Linked DNA regions of Homo sapiens: region 1 is linked to region 2. Evidence: fine-mapped expression QTL. A gene starts in region 2. The other region holds a variant in brackets. All regions are shown on one strand. Distances are from middle to middle.

Region 1 (8,000 bases), 180 kb before region 2:
GCCTTGTCCTCCCTCTGCCTGGGGTGCTTTCCCCCAATATTCTCATGCCCTTCTCCCTCATTTCAGTCAGAGCTTTGTTCAAATAGCTTCTCAAACAGTGCTTTCCTAACCAAACCAACCCCGTGTAAAACAGGCTTCCTTTCTCACCGTTCCCTATCTCGGTCATCACAGCACTTACCATCACCTGAACTATGCGTTTATTTGACTGCTTTGTTGTGTGAGTGCCTCACCAGGAAAAGGGTGGGGAATCTGTCTGCCTTGCTCACCATTTCTTCTGCAGCACCTGGAATGTTCTTGGCACGTGACAGATGCTCAATAAAAATCAGCTGAATGAATCCATCCATAAAGTGCATCATTGCCCCAAACAGAAAACCTATCCAAAATTGGGCCTATATAGTACTCTTTACTATGACAGATATATTTCTGAATTGACAACTTTTATCCAAGACACCTTTTAAAGTTATATGTGATCCCCATTGACTAAAGTTGGAAGCAGCCTCCTTCGGTTCCCCTCTGCCCTCCTCACCCTCCACTATCATTCCCCTTCTGGATATTAATATTCTGGGTTATTTTAGGCCGAATCCATATAAAATGCCACTTCAGATTCAATGCAGCCATGCTTAGGCCAGCCAGAAAGTGTGCCAACAGCTGTCCCTGAGTTTCAGAGCTGTCCTGGCTAGAATGCTTTACCTACTCTGCCTTGATAGTGGTGTCTCTTCTCCTCAAAGATTCTCCACTCTGTTCTCAGATCTTGGAGAGTAGTTATCAAGTTTGTATCTAAAACCTGCAGCTTTAAGAGAGAAGTAGAAGTTGACATTGCAGAGAAGTTAAATGATTCTCTAGGAACAACAGCTATTTATCTATTTAGACCCAGAAGAAATTCTCTATTTCACTCCATTATTTGTCTACATTGCTTGGGATTCAGCAAATGATGCTCTCAATTTTAATCATGTTTATTGCCTTTTCTGATTATGTAAGTAGCACATATTTATTTGTTTTGATCACTGATATATCCCTGGCTCATAGTAGATGCTCAAAGGCTAATTATTGAATGAATGAATAAATGTTAGATAATTTGAAGAGACCTCAGAAAAATTTAAAGGAAAATCTCTTTGTAATCCTACCTCATAGAGATAAACTATATTATTATTTTGATATATTTTTCTGCTCCTCCTTCTTCTCCTCCTTTTCTCGGTTTGTCTTTCTCTATATGAATAAATATAGGCATATATTTATCAGGATTTTTAATGTTCTTACTTAATCCTAAATTAAATTAATATTTAAATAAAAGAATGTATGCAATGAAGCATGGTATATGTGAAGTATAATTTATAGGATGTGTTTTCATTTTACTATTGCTAAAATGAAAAATAACTTTGGCATATGATAAATTGTAAATAGATATTTGCAACATTTAATGCTAATATAATGTAATATATATGAAGCATAGAAATCAAAAAGAATTGTCTCATGCACAGAACATATGCAAAATATACAATAATTATGGCATTTCTTTAGCTTTTGAAGCACAACTATCCATTAACATATATCCAACCGTCCTCCTAACAGGAAGTTAAATTTCACTTCAAAATTCTAACTTTACCACTAAATCATTCCATTTGCTCTACCATAATTTTATTTGTGCTTGTCAGACTTTTTGAGCCCTACCAGGCAGCTACAACACTAGCTGATTTATATCTTTTTCTGGTCATGTTTTAGAATCTCTCTAAAGCCAGGAAAATACTGGCATGGAAAAACTTACTGCTTACAAAGATGCTTGCATTTTAAAATGAACTTACAAATCTTTAACGTTCAAAGGTAGTTACATTTTTAAGAAATATCATTTTGGTTCCTAAGAAAAATGAAAAAAAATTAGAATTAGGTTCAAATGTACATGCTTTGTGTAACATGAGAAGGAGACTTATCCATAATACATTAATATTCTTTAAAAGCAAGTTACGGAAGAATATATTTTAAAAATCCCATATTTGTTATTGAAGAATGTATGTATACATATTTATGAGTGCATGAGTGCTTATATACATATCTGTGCATATCGTGTGTGTGTGTGTGTGTGTGTGTGTGTGTGTTAAAAGCCTAGAAAGATTAACAATAGATACCTCTGAGAAGTAGGTACAAAAAACACTTGTATTTTTTAATTTGTTACAATATACCCATTTTTTTTAATGACAGAGATTGGTAGGAAAAATGCCGAAGGGAGGCATTTTGGAAGTTGTATTCAAATATCAAATCAATAATCATATCTGGGTTCATTTAACCATCCCTTAGTTAGGTTTCGGAAAGATTACATTTAGAAACTTATTTTAGTTCATGAGCATGTGATAGCTCTGCCTCACATTATCCACGAATCATTAAACATAATCTTCTGACAAACTCAAGTGTCTTTTTCAGACTAGTTTCCTGTTTAAATATTTTAGCTTCCTCAAAAATAATTTTTGATTTGTTTTCTTCACTCCTATCCTTACAACTACCAGCCACAACCACCACTCCCAGGTGTATAGAAAAACTATACATCTGACTCTGGCTATAAGAGTCAGAAATATAGTTATAGGACCTTAGTTTCCATTTTACAGCTGAACAACAGGGTGTTTTTTTTTTTTTCTTGGCCTTCACCACTACCGTTGCCACTGTTCAAAAATCACCACGACCTGGCAATATTAACAAGCAGATGAGGGCTTCTGCCTCCTGATCCCTTTCTCAAAATTCTCAAAATCATGCACTATAAATTTACAAAGAAAAAAGAAATGACTCCTGCCCCTAAGGGATGCATTGAATAATTATTCTTTATCATAGCATAATCTAATGGCTGAATGTGTAAGTAGTAGAAACAGACTGCCTAAGTTCAAACCCTGTCTCTATCATTTATTAGCAACCTGACCTTGGACAAGTTGCTTAATCTCTCTAACCCTTAACTTTCTCATCTTTAAATGGGTTTCATAATACTCTCTATATCATAGGGTTGTGAGGATACATGATGTCATATAGTTAAGTACCTTAGAATGTTATCTGCCATATAATAGAGGCTCAATAAATATTAGTTAGTAGCTGTCATCATCACCCTATTTTCATCCACATTATTTTGATCCTTTTCATAGAGAGTATTAAGGCCTACTTTCAAAGGGCCATTGAAGGTGACTGTCTCTAGGTATAAAAACCTTCTTTATTCTTGTCTTGGGACTGACTCCCCAAATACTGGCCCAGTCCTCCATTTCCCTGGGTGCCAACTCTCTAGCCTTTTTCTCTCTGTTATTAACTCCTCTTCTTTCTACTGTATGGCAAACTAATGGAGGCAGATGTACCCGTCCCCATCCAAAATTTAGTTCAGATGCCAAAACTGATGATGCCATACACATGACAAAAGGGTATGAAGTGATTTATTACTTACATAATGAGGCTTTCTAGAGAGAGATGGGCAGGCTCCCAAGCAGGTCTGAAATGAAAAATGGCTTGAGAAAACAGGAAGGGGCTACTGGCTTGGGTTTTTATGGTAGCTAGGGGGTGCAGCTAGGGTGAAGGCTGCCTGTCGTAGGACAAGATGCATGGTTTGAACTTTTCACAGGTGCCAAAAAGAGACCTAGGCTTTTTATTAACTTGCTCAGATGTAGGGCAGAAGGAGAAGTTGGGCTTGAGAGCTTTTAGCAGTCAAACATCAAAAATAGAATCAGACTTTTTATTGTACTACCCAAAATGAAGGCTTCACAACGTTCCAAGGCAGCACCACCTTTCCTGATAGGGAAATGGACTCCCCATGACCTGCAGGTTCAACTAAAATACCACCCCT[A/G]GTCTAAAACCACAAGACAGAGCCACAGTTTGACTTCCTGGTTACTCCACCCTGCCCCCACCCCACCAAAAAAAAAAAAAAAGGACAACTGTTCTTCAGAAAATTATGAATAAAGAAAGGATGCAGTTAACTAATTTTATTTCAAGTTAATAATGAACAGAAAACTATATACCTTAATACTGTCTTTCTTTTGAATTTCTTTCACAGGTTTTCCTTATTTCTTTTAACCTCACAGTAGTTATATAAAGTTGTAAGGTCAGAAAGCTGTTATTGTACTCTACAGCCATCACTGAAACTCTCAGTGGTACACAGTAATAAATTGGGGCTGTGATGTAGGTGATACAAGACAATGAGAAGCTTAAAAATAATTTATATTTTAACTTTATAATGTACTATGTGATGTATATTTTATTACTCCTGGTAATAAAATTGTTTGGTATTCCTGAACATATATAAACTGACTGTTAGAAGCTTAGAACTAGGTAAGGAAGAAAAAGATAATGAGTATTTCATTGAGAATAGGATTCTAAGAGTAGAGTCTGCCAGTTCAGTGTGGGTTGGCCAGGTGTATTTCTTAGGCCAAATGCCTAAGTACTTAAGTGATCCATCTAATAGGTTTGCCGTCTTGGGTTTCTAAGAAATTACTGCTGAGACTAGCAGAAGGGTTTTCCAACTCTGCAATACCTATGATTTTTATTTTATAACTTTTGACCTATAGTCCCTGTGTTTTGAATAATGTTATTTGAAAATAAACAGCATTTATCATAGAAAAAAAATCTTGCTACTTATTCAGAAAAGATGTATTTCCATGTTTCCTCATGTATTGCCTTATTTTAGTAAAGATTTAACAAGATTAGCACATAGTTATTGTGAAATAAAGCAAGGTAATATAAATTAGAAATGTATGAGAAAAAAAAGAAAAACAAGGATAAGGTATTATATATATCCTGGTATGTGTATGTGGTCATTAAAGAATGGTGCTCAGAGAAGTCCTGTAGATGTCTGAAAATTTGGCTTTAAACTTCCTTGTAGTCAATGGGAGAGGTAAACCTGAACAAAATGTGTGTGTGGATGTCACCACAAATGGTGCTTTTAATTAGCGCAGTTAATATTACCAACGTGAGTTTATATAATTTCAATAGGAAGCAAAGAAACATCAGTTGGTTACTTTTTTGCAGATTCATCATGCACAAATTATGGTACTTGTGAGACTTTAAAATTGTAAAACTAGCTTATGGATGCTGTTTTCTTTCTCCTTTGAATCCCCAGCTGTCTCCATCTCAGGTCAAAATCCAATGACCTAGTACATACTCTGAATCTTTTCATTCAGTTAAATGTTTTTTTCATTTGTTATAGCTAATAAATGGTTTATTGGTTCTTTTATGCCATTATTAGTCATGTATTGAAGACTTTCCCTCTTGCAGAAACGCCACAATACAATATATTGTGGAGACAGATCTTTAGAGGCCATCCCACAAAAGATAACCACTATTCATCCCTGAACTGCGGGTTTGGAAGTTAAAGGGGATCTTTGAGTCAAATAATTAAGCAGACTGCAGTTCAGCTGGTTGAACAAATGTTGATGGAGTGCCAGGCCCAACTAAATGGAGATGAGTTTGTCAAATTCCGTGTCCCCAAGAGCTTGGAGTCTAAAGAAGCAGGTCATTTCACTAAGTGCAGTGTTTCTAAGGGGAAGCTTGCTCTAATGAAAACTTTGGCTTTTTTCCACAGGTTGGTACAATAGGCTTTTCATCAACTTTGTGCTAAGGAGGCATGTTTTCTTCTTTGTGCTGCAAACCTATTTCCCAGCCATATTGATGGTGATGCTTTCATGGGTTTCATTTTGGATTGACCGAAGAGCTGTTCCTGCAAGAGTTTCCCTGGGTAAATCTTTCCCCATCTTTATAAAATGTTAACATGGGAGAAAGTTCAAGGGAGGTAAATAAAATGGGTCATACATGGAGAGGAAAAGAGAGTGGTGGTTTAGTAGGGATAGTCAGAGATGAACATCCAGGTTGCAGTATCGATCTTGACATCCTCAAGGGCAAATTGTAATTGAGTTCTTTCCTTGGGAACCCGGATTTTAGGGATGAAGTCTTTGCTGACTGACCTGCAGTTGGGTGATAGTAAAGAAAGGGGGTGAAATTATGAAGCATAAACAGCCTCACTTTTAAAGCTTATCTCTTTTCTTTTTTAAGAAAACCTCCCCATGCTTTATACAAGTCCATTTAGCTTTTCAGGACAAACCCTTACATCACAGAAAGGAAAACCTTCAAACTAATTCACACTATACTCTTAGTGTATTAATAACAAATTACCTTGGTGGGTTAACAAGAATGTGGAAGGGATGCTTGAATTTGAAAATATGAATACTGATTAGAAATTAGGACTTAACTAAAAGACCAAAATCAGAATCAACCACAGTGGAATTTCAGGTACAGTGGCATATTAGTTGGCAGGAGATTTTAGGTGGAGAGACGTTGCCAGCCTCATTAAGTCACTACACAGGGTTGATTATCTACACCGTCTAACATGCTATATGCCTCTGTCACACACACTGATTTATGGGAACCATTTCAGACCCACTTAGCAGTTATTGAGATCTTAGAAAGTAGAAGATACCAAGCTAAGCACTTAGATGACATGTTACTTAATGAGAACCCAAGAGATAATCCCACTTGCCTTTTTTGCTGGTCAGGGCTGATCCCCCTCATTTTATCTGATTTTGCTCTTTCATTTGTAGTGCTCTATCTAGAGAGGAGATTGTTATTATTACAATCATTGTTACAATTATTGTAATTATCACACAATTCATTCCAGAAAGGGTGGTTTGTAAGTTAATGTTCACAAATTATATGCATACTTCAAAAGATCATTTGAAAGACATAAATTATTAATATTAACAATTTGCTCACCTCCTTTCCCTATTAAAATATTCAATCTACAAGCATTTGAGACTTGAATATCTTCAAGGAAAAAATACCATCTGAATAAGTAATTAAATTATTTGAACTGTTTCTTCACATCAGAGCATGTGCCCTAACCTCAGTACTGCAGTGTGGCAGCATAGACCCAAATACAAGACCAAGGGCACATTTCCAGCCCTCTAGACACAATGAGGAAAGCACTCAGTCTATAAACGTTTATGAACATGATTTTCAGTCATATTTCTGAAGTTGACTGCTCTGCTCTTATACTGTGAAAATGACAGCAATAAGAGCTACTTCCATGGAAGGGTGGAGTGAATTGGGAACACTAAAACACTTTTAAGACATCCTTGAAATTCTCTGCTTCTTGCAACCACATCTGATCCCTTAGGGTTAGGAAATTGCTATGCAGATTTATGTAAAATGCATGCAAATCAGAAGTGTCCCTCTCCCACTTTTTAAAAAAATTATTTTAAGAGAACAGTAGTATTCCTATAAAACTGTTACCTTCTCAGGATTTGCTTCCTACCACCCTCACTTTTTTTTCAAAGATAATTTGCCCTCTTCTTCCCTAGCTCTTTGCAAATGCTTAGCTGCCCAATTCTCTGGAAGGTCCCTATGAATACCTATTCATCTGTCCCAATTACCTTTTCTCTTCTGCCTCCTTCCTTCACCTTCTCCACAGCATTTGACATTATTAGGCATCCTCTCCAAATCTAGGACCAACTTTAGTGGTCAAGAGTTCCAGCCTCATCTTCCTCATCTGCAAAATGAAATTATTCATACTACCTCCTAAAGGTCACTATGAGAATTAAATGGGAGAATTAATTAATTTCATCATGTCAACTGCCTAGCTTGATGCCTGGCCCATAGTGTTGGATGAAACCAACTACACACACAATGCATTAGCTTTCAATACTCTCCGCTAGTCTAGTTTTTTTCTACTCCCAAAGACTTTTTTTTCCTTTTCTCTTTCCTGCTTTTTCTTCCACTCCTTAAGTATGAGTAACTCCCTCCCAAGGATCTGCTCACTTTTGACTCTTATCAAATGGAACAAACTTTTTAATTCCAACTACTGTCCGTATGTAAGCATGTTCCATTTGGGTACTTTCAGTTGTATACTGGACTTCACCTTCAGATACTACAAGCGTTCAGCCTGTTTAGAACCGAGTCTTTCCTTGGGAACCCAGACTTCAGGGATGAAGCATGTGCCAACAGACCTGTAGCTGGATGATAGTAAGGAAAGAGAGTGAAAGTATGAAGCATAAATA
Region 2 (12,402 bases):
ACGTACAACTGCCAAATAAACACTAAGAATGACTTATTACTAGTGGAAAAACTTCGATTTGTTCTCTAACAGCATCAACCTTCCTGGTGTTTCTAAGTGCCTACTTGAAGGTTGGGGAGGGTACCACCCCTAGCTGAATGTTACTAATAAGTCCTTTAATGCTCCAATCAACAGTCACTCCTCACCTGAACTAAGGGGACGCAAAGATGAAGACAAAGCCCCTGACCTTGGGTCTAGCAATCCTGTCTCAACTTCTTTCCATCAAAAAAAAAGCACTGCCACTTTTTTGGAATGTTGATTCCCGAAGGGATGCCCTTTTCTGCCTCTATCCAGGACTTGCAAAGCCTGAAGGGTCAAGGAGGAAAGCAAGAGGAACCAAGGGGCAGCATTTCCATTCACCTTGATGGTGCAGTTACTATCATGTTTCCCCCACTATGCTGCCTTGGCAAAGGAAGCTAACCAAACCATGCTTGGAGAAAAGTTAATAATGTGAGAACATATTTTGAAAGCCCAGTTAAAGTTCTCATACAACGTATGACATTCGTGAAACATTAAGTATGCTCTGAACGAAACAAGTCACACACTCCAAAGACATGTTTGGTTTATAATGAGTTCATATTAAGAACAGAGATGTACACTTTTATCTCCTCCATTAATGTGTGAATTCTATGAAGGCATATTTGGTCATCCATTTATGGTTATATCCACATTGCTTTGCACCATATGAGACACAAAGCAGCCACTCTAACTTATGGATTGAACAGACTCAAAGTAGGTATTACCTCCTTAACTTTTACTTCATGCTGATTCCTTCTTTTCAGCATATAGCCTAGATTATTTTCCTTAATTTTACAACCACCTACAGTTTGTTGCTATCATTTTATTTAATAATTGGTAACTAACGTTTCTTATATCTGGACTTTGGTATATTTCATCAGAACTTTGGATAGAAAATATTTTGTCTTGAGGGAATATTTTCTCTTATTTTACAAAACTTGCTATTACCCTTTTTACATATTTTCCGCTGTTATGAGTAAAAAAACTTAAAAATGTTATAACTGTCAATAAAGTTAGAAGTTCTGATTATATAAACTTACTGCAGGTCAATTTGTGGTACCTTTGCAACTTTAACACTTTCAGAGCATACAATTGAGTCCATTTCCAAGGAATGTTCACAGCAAAAAATAGAATTCCCAAATTAGCCATCTGGTAGACACCTTATTGAACCCAAGAGATGGAAATCACTTGGAAAAGGTGGACTTTTGATACCCTACAACAGGCTATATTTTGACTCTGCTGCCAAGAGTAAGCTTTTGCTTTGAATTAACCTAGAGGAGCAGAGGGGGACAAGATTCTCACAAATTACACACCCCTAAAGACTTCTGGAATTCTCTCGTCATCTTCACTACTGAAGGCATGAACTGCTGATGTGACACAGGTATCTCCTATCCAACTAACTAGTTACCAATTATTTTTAGTGCTTCAAATCAATAAAAATGCAATCATCATGACAATTTAGAAAACAAAGCTTCCTTTCCTCACATAACTGATGCTGTTGTCAACACTGGTAGTTTAACCTGAAGGCCAATAGCTCTCCCATGCTGGTCATCAGAAGTACTACTGACATTTCTGACAGTACAGAGTACCTCCTACACCACAGCTCATTAGCAGCCTGGTCCCACCCATTCACCTCCTCTCACGATTTAGGGTAATCACTCTCCACTGGGAGTGGTATCACTCTCCCTCCCACCCACCTGGGTGGAGGAATTTTCAGTTATCCCAATGACCAGAGGATGCTACTGGCAATTAGTGTGTGTAATCATGGATACCAAACATCTTGCAAAGGACAAAAGAGTCCAGTTCAAAGAATTGTTCCATTCAAAACGCCCATAGCATCCATCACTGAGCACTCTCCCAAACTCAGTTTCTTCAATTGTCAGATCGTAAAAGTGGACCAACATTTCACACTGAGTGTGAGATTTACATGATACGTTGCAAGTAAAAGTACCCAGCCCAGAAGTAAGTGCACAGTCAGCCCTTGATAAATACTGTTCTCACCTTACCATCTCTCTTCACAGTTACAAACATTGCACAGAACTCATTTTAAACAGGTCCATCATGCATGATACAGCCAAGAAACAAAGTTGAGCAATCATTTCTTGAAGCAGATAAAGGCAGGAATTCCTCCAAGTTTCATATTTCAGCAATATCTGTATAACAGGCTTTTGCAAAAATTCTCTGAGCCTTAAATCTAGAGCCAAACATTTTGTCTAGAGACCTTTATAACCCAGTTCCAACCTAAATTTCTTACTGCTCCTTTCACTCTGTCCCATTAATGTATATATCCCCTAACAGATCATAAACCCCTTGCAGGCCTTTGCTCAGTCTGGAATGCCTTTTCCCGGAATACCTGTTCCCTATTCTCTCTCTTCCTAAGTTCTCTTTGTATAGAAACATCACCAATTCCTTGAAGACCCAGTTAAAATCATCCCTACCAGGAAGCACTTCCTGGTCTCCCCTATCACTTCTAATGAGTCCATTCCTTGTATGCTTATAAACTGGGCTTAACACTGCACCAGTGATTCTCAAACTGGGATCCACAGAACTCTGGGAGTTTTTGAGTTTCCTATGAAAACTTCAATTGCAGTTTTCCTTTTTATCATCTAAAATAAATTAATATAAGCATTTCCTGGAAATGGTCAACCACCTAATATGAGTACAATCAAGCAATTTGAGTGCCTACGCCTAAGTTGGGATATACAATAGTGTTGATGCTAATAGGCCTTCTTTAATTGTGACAAAGAAAGAATACATAATGAAGTGTTGTCACCAACTGAAGCCCATATAAATCACAGCACACCATAAAAACAAAGATTTTCCTATGGTTCAAAACAGTAAAATATTGGAAGACCTGTATCAAGGCATGGCAGCTCCCCAAAGACCTGGTGTTTGTCCCAGTACGCATTTTGTGAGCAGGCAAAAAAACAGTTTCAGGATGTTGTAAATTCGACTTTTACGGGTCTCATAATTATGTTTTAGTTTATTTTTTAATTTTGTACTCCTCTTCATCTAAAATCATCACTACAGAAGGTATACCCAGCTCTCATAATGATAAAAGTTTTTATGCCCACAAAGAGAAATAGCCAAAATACTCTTTCATTTTGAAATAAGATCACAGTGACAAATTGCAATTCTGTTTCCAATCTTGTTAACATCAGGGTGTTGTGTTACTGGGACATTCAGTACTATAAAGCGGTTCCATTTGTTTTATTAAACTTTCAATAAAGGCTTTGTGTTTGTTTATGCCCTTGAAATGAAAGATTTAAGCTCATTTAAAACAGTAAAACACCCACATAAAGGGTCATCTGCTATCCCCCTAACATCTGGCAAGTTCCAAAAAAGATGAGAACAAAATTAGCGTTGATATAAGCACAATTAAAATCTTCATCGTTGAAAAGCCATAATTTGTGCCAATCTGGAGATGATGAGAATAGAGAAGTGGTAGGTGAACAAGGAACTAGTTGCTGGAGGGGTCAGCTCCAGTCAGTAAAGAAATTAGAATTGAGAAGTGCCTTAAAAAGCCAAAATAGGGCAGAGAGGCAAGCAGGATTTCAGGCCATTACTGACATGAGCCTGAATTTGACCTGCTTACTCCTTTCTAACACTGACTCTCAAGTTCCCAACTTTTGCTGCGCCTACTTGGGATTTCCTTGCAGACTGCGTTCATATTATCCAAGACTGTTAGTGCTGTTACGGCGGTGGCAGGCACCACAGGCTGTCTGCCCACACCAACAGAACTAGCTGACACCCTGGATGAGATCTGTCAGACTTAAAAACTATTTTTAACTTCTGTGTAACTTTGAATTTTAAACTCTCAACAGTCAGAGCAATAATAGCTGAAACGTCCCAGGAGAATAACCACTCAATTATCGTAGGAGCTTTCTTGGAAACATGTGGCATGTTATTAACAGACGGTCATAATGAAAATGTTTCACAAGCGGGGAAACCGAGGAACACACAAACGACTAAAATCACATCACAAAATCTGAATACTAATGGAATTGGCTCACTCTCAGTTCTGTTTCCTATCCATTTTTTTTAAGCCCACCAGGAAATCTTGAGTCCGAAGTAAACACGGTTTTCTGGAGTGTGTCCTTCCAATGACAATGGTCATTCTAGTGCAATCTCGGGAGAAGACAGTGTAAGCCTCTCATAAGTTTAAGAAAGCGAGCTGCGTTTTACTTAACCCCTCTTTCTTCGGGGGGATGAAAAGACTCAGAAACAGGCATTTAAATGAGGCATGTCTAAAATTTTTTGATTTTTGAACATGGGAAAGTGAAGGAAAGATAAAAATATTACAGAGAAAGGGTACATTTTGATTACTGAAACCAAGACAGCTGGAAACCTGATTTCCAGAATCTGTTTGGGAACTTGAGGCAGATGTTTCTAGGAGAGATGAGAAATAAAGAAGGGTGGCGTCATTTACATGTCCAGTCCATTTTGGTGAAAGTCTTGGGAACGCATTATCACAATTCCTTTTAAAAATCATTTTGAGAAAATTTAAATAAGATGGCAAAAATACCAGCTGAGGGGGTGACGCCCCAAAGCTTTACCTTTTCCACTTTTGCCCCGATCTCCTCCCACACAAGTGGTGCTGGGATCGCGCCCCCAATTCCCCTGGCCGACGGCTCCGCTCGGCTCACAAGTGTTTCCCATTACTGCAGGCGGGACGCCGGGGAAATCGCTTTTGCCACAGAACTTGGAGAGTAGAGCGTGTGTGGAACGGGAACCCAATCACGTCCGGGCAGGGGAAAGTGGGAAAGGAAGAGCGCGGAGCCAGGCGGGGATCGGGGGATATGCGTCCGGCTGCCGGGCAAGAACTTCACCCCGATTTAACCTGCAGAGGAGAGGCGAGTAGTGCGGCACGGGAACGGGGCAAGGAGGAGGAAACTTTAGCAATGGAGGAAGGAGAACAGAAAGTGGCGAGCGAACTGCAGCCTGGCCCAAGAGCGGCCCGCTGCCGGCGGTCAGGCCGGGAGCCTTCATCCCGCGAATATGTGCAGGGCCCCCCCGCGACCCCCTCCTCGACTCCCACCTGGCAGCGGACCGGCCTGGAGCTGGAGGCGGGCTCGTCCCCGGCCTCTCCTCCTCTTCCTCTTCCTTGTCCCGGGAAGGACTTCGGGGAGCGAAGAACCGGGAGAAGCTGTGCCAGGGGGCGCTGCCCCTTCTGCGGCCGCTGGACATTTCCCGAGGGGGCCGCTGGCCCGGGGCTGTCTGAAGGGAACGGCCTAGGTGTTGCCTGGTGCCCGGAGCCCGACCGGGCGCCGCGGGATGCGGCTAGGGCAGACCGACTCGACGCGAGCTGCCAGCGCGGCTCAGTCTCTCTCGGGCAGGAGAAGTGCGGACGCGACGCGCTCCTCGCGCGGCAGCTCCTCACGCCGCTGCGGCTGCTCCTCCTCCCGCCCTCGCCCGGCGCGGCCCGCCCCACCCCGAGGAGGAGCCAGTGGCCGCGGCACCGCCCTGAGCCGGGCGCAGCCGCCACCGCTGGGGCGCTACGTGGTCCCCCGAAGGCGCCGGCCTGAGAGCCTGAGGGGAGTCGCCCAGCGTGCGACGCTAGGCTCGGGCTTACGGCTCAAACAAGTTCAGGCTGCAGCCTGTTGGGCTTTGCCTTCAATTACTTTCTGTGACCGTTGTGTTTTCTATTCTACAGTCAGAGCACAGAAACGGTTTTCTTCGGGCTTTTGAAAGAGGTTTATGAACTAAGGTTTGTGAAAACACTTGGCAAACTGCAGTACCGGGGCGCCCCGGACTTGCTGGGAGCTAAGAAACAGCTACCGCAAATACAGCTCCAACCCTGAGGGCGAAAGTCGCGTTAGCACAGAACCGGGCGGCGGGAGGGAGAAGGGGGTACCTGTCAGGCGGTCACCACCTCCCGGCGCGTTCTGCTGGCTTTCTGTGGTGTGACTTTTCCTAACCGCGCTGTGCTTCAGACTTTTCACACGCCATACTTCCCTGCGAACTCTTTCAAAAACGGCACTGATCAAAAAGTATGATTTCAAGCTTGTCAATGCTGCAACATATTTTGCAGTCGTTACACAGATGCCACTGAAATCTGGGAACCAAAGGGTGCTTAAGACTTGTTTTAAGTCTAAGTACAGTGGTATGGATTTTTCTTGGTTTTTCATACCCTATAGCAGCTAGTACAGGAGATACTGAGAGGCCCATTCACCCCAAGTGTTTTGTTTTTGTTTGAAGGCAAGCTGCCCCTGGAGTAGACGTCAAGGAAGTGATATGGCTTTTGTTCATTAAAAAATGTATACAAGTAAATGAGATAAAAATGAAATGTCCACAGCAGAGGGGAGCCTTGGAGTAATCTCCCCTCTGGCTTTCGGGTGCTGGAGGAGAAGGTTGCTCATAAGTAGATTGCATACCTATAAGCCCCAAGTCCTTTCAGCACCTGCTGGAGGCTATTGAGCCTCCCTGCCTCCCCACGCTGCCTCCCAGAAGCCCTCCAGCTCCTACTAACTGCAATAGAGCCAAGACACTCATTCTCATTTGTTCTGGCAGGATTTAACCCATTAAAGTTCAGTCAGCCCGATTTCCATCAATCGGGTTCATCTCAGTCTATCCCTCAAGATTAATCCTTTTTTACTCTTTGGTAAATTTTTCCTATTTCTCTGTGAGCCTAGTCTGAGAAAATAGAAAAAGACTAAGATAATAGACTAGAATAAGACAAGTTCCCAATTCTAGCTTTATTATTTTATAAGAGAATCTCCACTGAAGACCCACTTACCAAAAAGCCCAAAGAGAGTAATAAAGCAAACTGTTTCTTCCAGCTAAAAGGCCCAAATGATAATTTGTCTTCCCAACGTATTATTGAATGACTATCACATTTGTCCCTGACTTGTTCTGTGATCAAACCAGGCCCCAGTGCCTACCCAGAGGGTACTTCGTTCAGGAAGTTTTTCTTGGAATAAAAATGGGGGGGAGTCAATAGGATTTAATTAATGAATTATGGTTTTAACTAATAATATATCTAACAATACTCTGATCTCCACTCGGTAGCACAGCAAAGCACTTAAGTGAATGGTAAATACAAATAATGCCATGTTTACACTAAGACAAATTGCGTCTATGACAAAATAGCTTAAAGTCATAAAACAATGACCATTGAATTTTCCTTCATTTGCTTTCTGAGCACTTATTAGTTTTCTATATGTCCTACATTGTTATAACCTGAACTCATATGAACAAATTTCTAAATACTAAATTCTAAGATTGCATTAGGAAGCCTGTAAAAATGTCAAATTTTAGAGCTGTAAGGATCTTAGAGATACTAATTTAGCACAGTGTCATTAATTCACTGATCCAGTTATTCCCCGACGTTTAGTGAGTGCCTGCAGTAGAAGCACATCTACAGTGAAGCCGATGAGGCTCAAGTTTCTTGGCTCCCTGCTGGCACAGTCTCTTCCAGTGTGAACTCAGCAATGGGATCCATGGCCAGTTTTATCAAATTTACAAAAGTAAATGTTTTAATGTGATTAAGACCACAATCTCTTTTTTTTTCCACTTAGATGTCCACTTAGATTTTCTTTTCCACTTAGAGTTATCAAGAGCATTTGGGAATCTGCTAGGGAATTTCAGTTGGGAATATATTTAGTTTGGACTTAGTGGAATATATTTATGTGGTTTCCAGCCTCTCCAAAGTATAGTTATTTCTTAAATTCCAATTTGTTTGTAGCGCAGCTCACCAAGTATTACACCCAAGATGCAGAGCCAGAGGAGATATATTCTGTGGTCTCTGACACTGAAAATATGTGGGTAATAGAGGTGAGACAAGATTTGAAAGGTAAAGCAGCATCAGGTGTCATGTGGAAAATTATTCCAGGCATCAGAAGACAAAGTTTCAACAGGAAGGATTGCCTCCGATTGATGTAATTTCTCTCATAGCAATAATATATTCAATAATGCAGTATATTTAATTTTTTTTTTGAGACAGAGTCTGGCGCTGTCACCTTGGCTGGGGTGCAGTGGTGCAATTTCAACTCACTGAAACCTCCGCCTCCTGGGTTCAAGCAATTCTCCTGTCTCAGCCTCCAGAGTGGCTGGGACTACAGGCGCCCACCACCATGCCCAGCTAATTTTTGTATTTTCAGTAGAGACGGGGTTTGACCATATTGGTCAGGCTGGTCTCGAACTCCTGACCTCAGGTAATCCACCCGTCTCAGCCACCCAAAATAATTTTTATAACTGTAAACACAAAACATTTTTTCTTGTTGATGTAAACCATGTAAAATAGAATTTATCAGAATTCTTGTTTGTAGGGTACAAACCTGTAGCAGTACCACAAGCTTTGTGTGTGTGTGTGTAGTACTGCATGTTTACACAGCCTTTCTATCAATAAGAAAAACAGAACTAGAGGAAAGATTGCATTATCTTTTCATTATTATGGAAAATAATATTACTAAATTATTGTCATATGAAAGGCTATTGAAGAGTACACTGCCAAAAATATAGGAAAAAAAGTGATTGTGCAAGGCATTTAGTAAGAAAACAAATTGTTTTTCTAGTCAACCTTTTAAAATTAGTAATTTGCATGGTTTATGTTTTCATTCAATATATTCATTTTTATATCTAATTTTCTTTTAAATCCTTTTTCTTTAAAGAGGACCCTCCAAATTGTAAAAACTTCAGATCCCACAAAACCTGGATATGTCCTCTAGTGCATACTATGTGTCAGATACATGCTCATTCTTAGACATAGAGATACGGTGATAGATAAGACCAAATGCTTAACATCAAGGAGCAAGTTTAATTGGGCAAGATGAGCAAATGGGGTAAGATGGGAAACATAGGACGGATCCCCAACTTAATCTGAAGGGTTCCTGGAAGGCTCACTAGAGGAGATAACTGTTAATATGCTCTCTTCTTCTCTGCCTCCTTTTAGCACCTGATTTCCACCTATAATACTGTAATTCAATAACTTGTGTGATATATGAGAAATCCTGAAGTTCATCACACTGTAACTGAATTGCCATTCCCACAACGTAAGTACCATTCTCAAAGGTATGAGAATAGAATGAAAGTGTTGATCCTTGAAGCATTTAAACTGCAAGAGTAGTTTAGTAATGCTAAGCGTTTTTGTTCTGAAAAGTCCACCAGGGAATAAGCTTCTGTATATATCTTAGAGCACAGTATTTACTGTGTGGCAGGTGGCCCAGGAATATTAAGACAGCTGTCAACATCAAGGAAAGCACCAGCCCATGAAAAAGCAAGCAGATGGATTGGGGCACTTCACTAGCTGCCTCCTAGAATAATAGCTGTGCGTGGCCAAATGAGGCAGTGTCATGCGGCCCAGGGCAGCAAAAAGCTATTACTGAATATAAGCACTCAATTAGGAGGTGGGGTGGGGGGAATATCTTCTCTTTTCCTTTGTTTATATGCTCAAATTTTCATTAAGAACTCCCACAGCAAATAAAAAAGGGGAAAAATGATGTTAGCATTTCTCATTGTTACTTTCTAATTATCATGGTTTGTAACATGGGGAAATGCCTGTCTTGCTGCTTCAATGAGAACAGATGGTAAAATTTTTAAGTAATTGGTTATTCCAACTTCTATGAGATGCATGATGTTTTATTGTATTGTTTGTCTGGTTTTTGTTTGCGGAACATGTGGAGATTGAGATCTTTCGAACACACATCTTTTAATGCTTAAATTAAGTAAAATGTGTTAGTCTGACCTAAACTACATTTACACTTTTCTCCCTTTGATATGATGATACTTCAAAGAGAAATTAGTCCTTTACAAAAATATAACATTAACATTAAAAATTAAATATATAGCTTTCAAACAGCACAAAATTTGCTAATATTGAAACGTACTTTTAAAAATGTATAAATAGGGGTAGCATGTCTTTGACAAACACTGATTATAACATGTGTTCCAAAATAGTTGTTCACACCAATTCAGTGTGATGTGTCTTTTATCTAAGTCAAATGCTATCTAAAATATAAGGTCATATGTAAGATATTAAGTTTTATTAATGGAGCTTCATAAGCATGACGTAGATAATGGCTCAGAATAATAATTTACTATTAGATGAGAAATTCATCCTCTATATTGTTTTCCCAAAATATTTCATCTGACTTCATAAACTCTGCACTGTAATATGCACTTCTGATATACAATTTTAAAAGTATTCCATAAAGAATGATTATTTATAAATTTCTAGACTGCATTATATTACTGTTAGTTGTAAGTTTTGTTTCTTAGGGCTTTATGAAACAAAGCTTTGGAGCAAAACAAACAAAACAGAAAAAGTGGCTGTGAACTGGTTTCCTTTTTATCTTATTGTGACGTTTTATAGTATACATGTCCCAGAAGCTAGAGCTTTCTTACTATGGGTACTTTGTTCTCAGTTTGATTTCTTGCAAATGGTTTAAAAACAAGGCATAGTGGCAGCTGCTTTTGTGAGCAAATGTTTTGATTAGGGAGAGAAAGCAGCTGGAAATGCTACATGCTGTCATATAAAATGAACCAGTTTTCACATGGGAACTTTACCTAATCTAAAATTGAGATTAACGTAATTTCCTGTACATGAATTTTCTTTGCATAGAATAAAATAGAAATCTATTCACTTTGATTACAATTTGGAGTGATGAAATGATGAACATAGTGCTGAATATAAACTTGACATGTCTATGGAAATCTTACTCCATTCTGAAAGAAAGTATCATTAACAAACTTCCAGAAAAATTTATTTAAAAATATTGCTAAAGGTAGTAGCAAAAAAAAATCCATATGGAGCTTATAAAACCAAATGTTACTATAGATGACATAATTTTTTACTTCTTAAAAATGGGGCAAGTACATTTCTTAATGACCCCACTTTCATTTTGAAAGACCTGTAAAAAATTATTTAAAGTATAACTTAACTGGATTTGCAAATAATGAACAAAAGAACCAGACAGCAATATTTTAATTAGTTTATCCTACCAATTGAATTCCTTCCTCACCTCTTCTAGTCAGCTTTTCACTGGTAAAGGAAAAAAGCAGTTACCTATGAAAAGAGGTAAACAGAAGACAAGAAGTTAGGTTTTCTTCTTTGTTTTGCCCCTTACCATGACCTCTGGAAATTTTATGAATGAGACTGCAGATACTAAAATGTGTTTTATTTGTCCTTTTGTTTTTGTTTTGTTTTTGGTTTAGGGATGGGCTCTCTTTTGCGCAGGCTAAAGTGCAGTGTGATCTTAGCTCACTACTGCATTGTAGCCTCGAATTCCTGGGATCAAGTGATCCTCTCACCTTAGCCTCGCAAGCTGAGATTACTGGCACAAGCCACCTTGCCTAGCTATATGTCTTTAAAAAAAAAAAACACATATCAACATGAAAAAGATGTAATAACTATTATTTAATGTACTTAGTCACATTTCCACGATTATTTCTCACTTTGAAAATTACTGGAGGCCAGGCATAGTGTCTCACACCTGTAATCCCAGTACTTTGGAAGGCAGAGGCAGGAGGATCACTTGAGCCCAGGAGTTTGGGACCAGCCTAAGCAACAGAGTAAGACCTCATCTCTACTAAAAAGAAAAAGAAAAACATTAGCCAGGTGTGGTAACAAGCACCTGTAGTCCCAGCTCTTTGGGAGGCTGAGATGGCAGGATTGCTTGAGCCCAGGATGTTGAGGTTGCAATGAGTCATGATCATGCCGCTGCACTCCAGAGTGGGTGACAGAGCAAGAACCTGTCTCAAAAAAAAAAAAAAAAAAAAGACCAAAAAGTTACTGGAAAGGATGTTGAGTACTTGACTTTAAAAGGACAGTAATTTCTATCCAAACCCCTGTTATGATGGGGTTTGATTAGTCACTGCAGAAGCACTCTGTTTAGCAAAGAACAAAAAGCAAAAGGAATGATATTTTTATAAGCATTCAATAGAAATTTTTACTGAAATATCAAAGTAAAAAGAATTCTCAATTGATTTCATATTAATAACCATTCTTAAGTTTTCATTCATTTCTATGTCCTATCTTCTATTTCATTTTTATTCTTTTCAGTTCCCCAAATAAGCTCTTCTAAGTAGTCAGTTTCTATATAAGTCATTTGGTCTACTTCTCATACAGGTAAATGTATTGACATACTGCTTTTATTATTGAGTACAGAAGACAATTAATGAACAAATTGTTTTTATGAACCATGCAGTTGGTATTAACTTTAAGTAATGCCAAAAATTGGAATGGTGTTTTACCTCCATCTGACTCAACAGAAACTCCACTTCAAATGATCAATTATATACATCATGAAATGAAAGAGCTGACCATACTACAATATAAAATCTGTCTCTGTAAAAGTATCAGCCACAATGCAGTCTGAGGGAAATAAACTTACTGAGTTCTGCCATTTT

What was found.
Region 1: its variant is fine-mapped to the expression of CRYBG3 in whole blood (TOPMed, PIP above 0.99).

What each region holds. Positions count from the first base shown.
Region 1 is chr3:97,999,301-98,007,300 of GRCh38, reverse strand. GABRR3 (gamma-aminobutyric acid type A receptor subunit rho3) reads left to right here. Exons shown (of 10, transcript NM_001105580.3): 8 at 5,534-5,686. Among named protein-coding and RNA genes, the nearest start is that of RIOX2, 31 kb to the right of the region's middle. The variant A/G (reference allele first, on the strand shown) is at 3,803.
Region 2 is chr3:97,815,049-97,827,450 of GRCh38, reverse strand. CRYBG3 (crystallin beta-gamma domain containing 3) reads right to left here and starts at 5,440. Exons shown (of 22, transcript NM_153605.4): 1 at 5,096-5,440. The coding sequence starts at 5,244. It overlaps LOC101929298 (a long non-coding RNA gene), which reads left to right and starts at 5,675. Exons shown (of 3, transcript XR_427389.3): 1 at 5,675-5,764; 2 at 8,948-9,047. RefSeq lists a silencer at 5,294-5,663.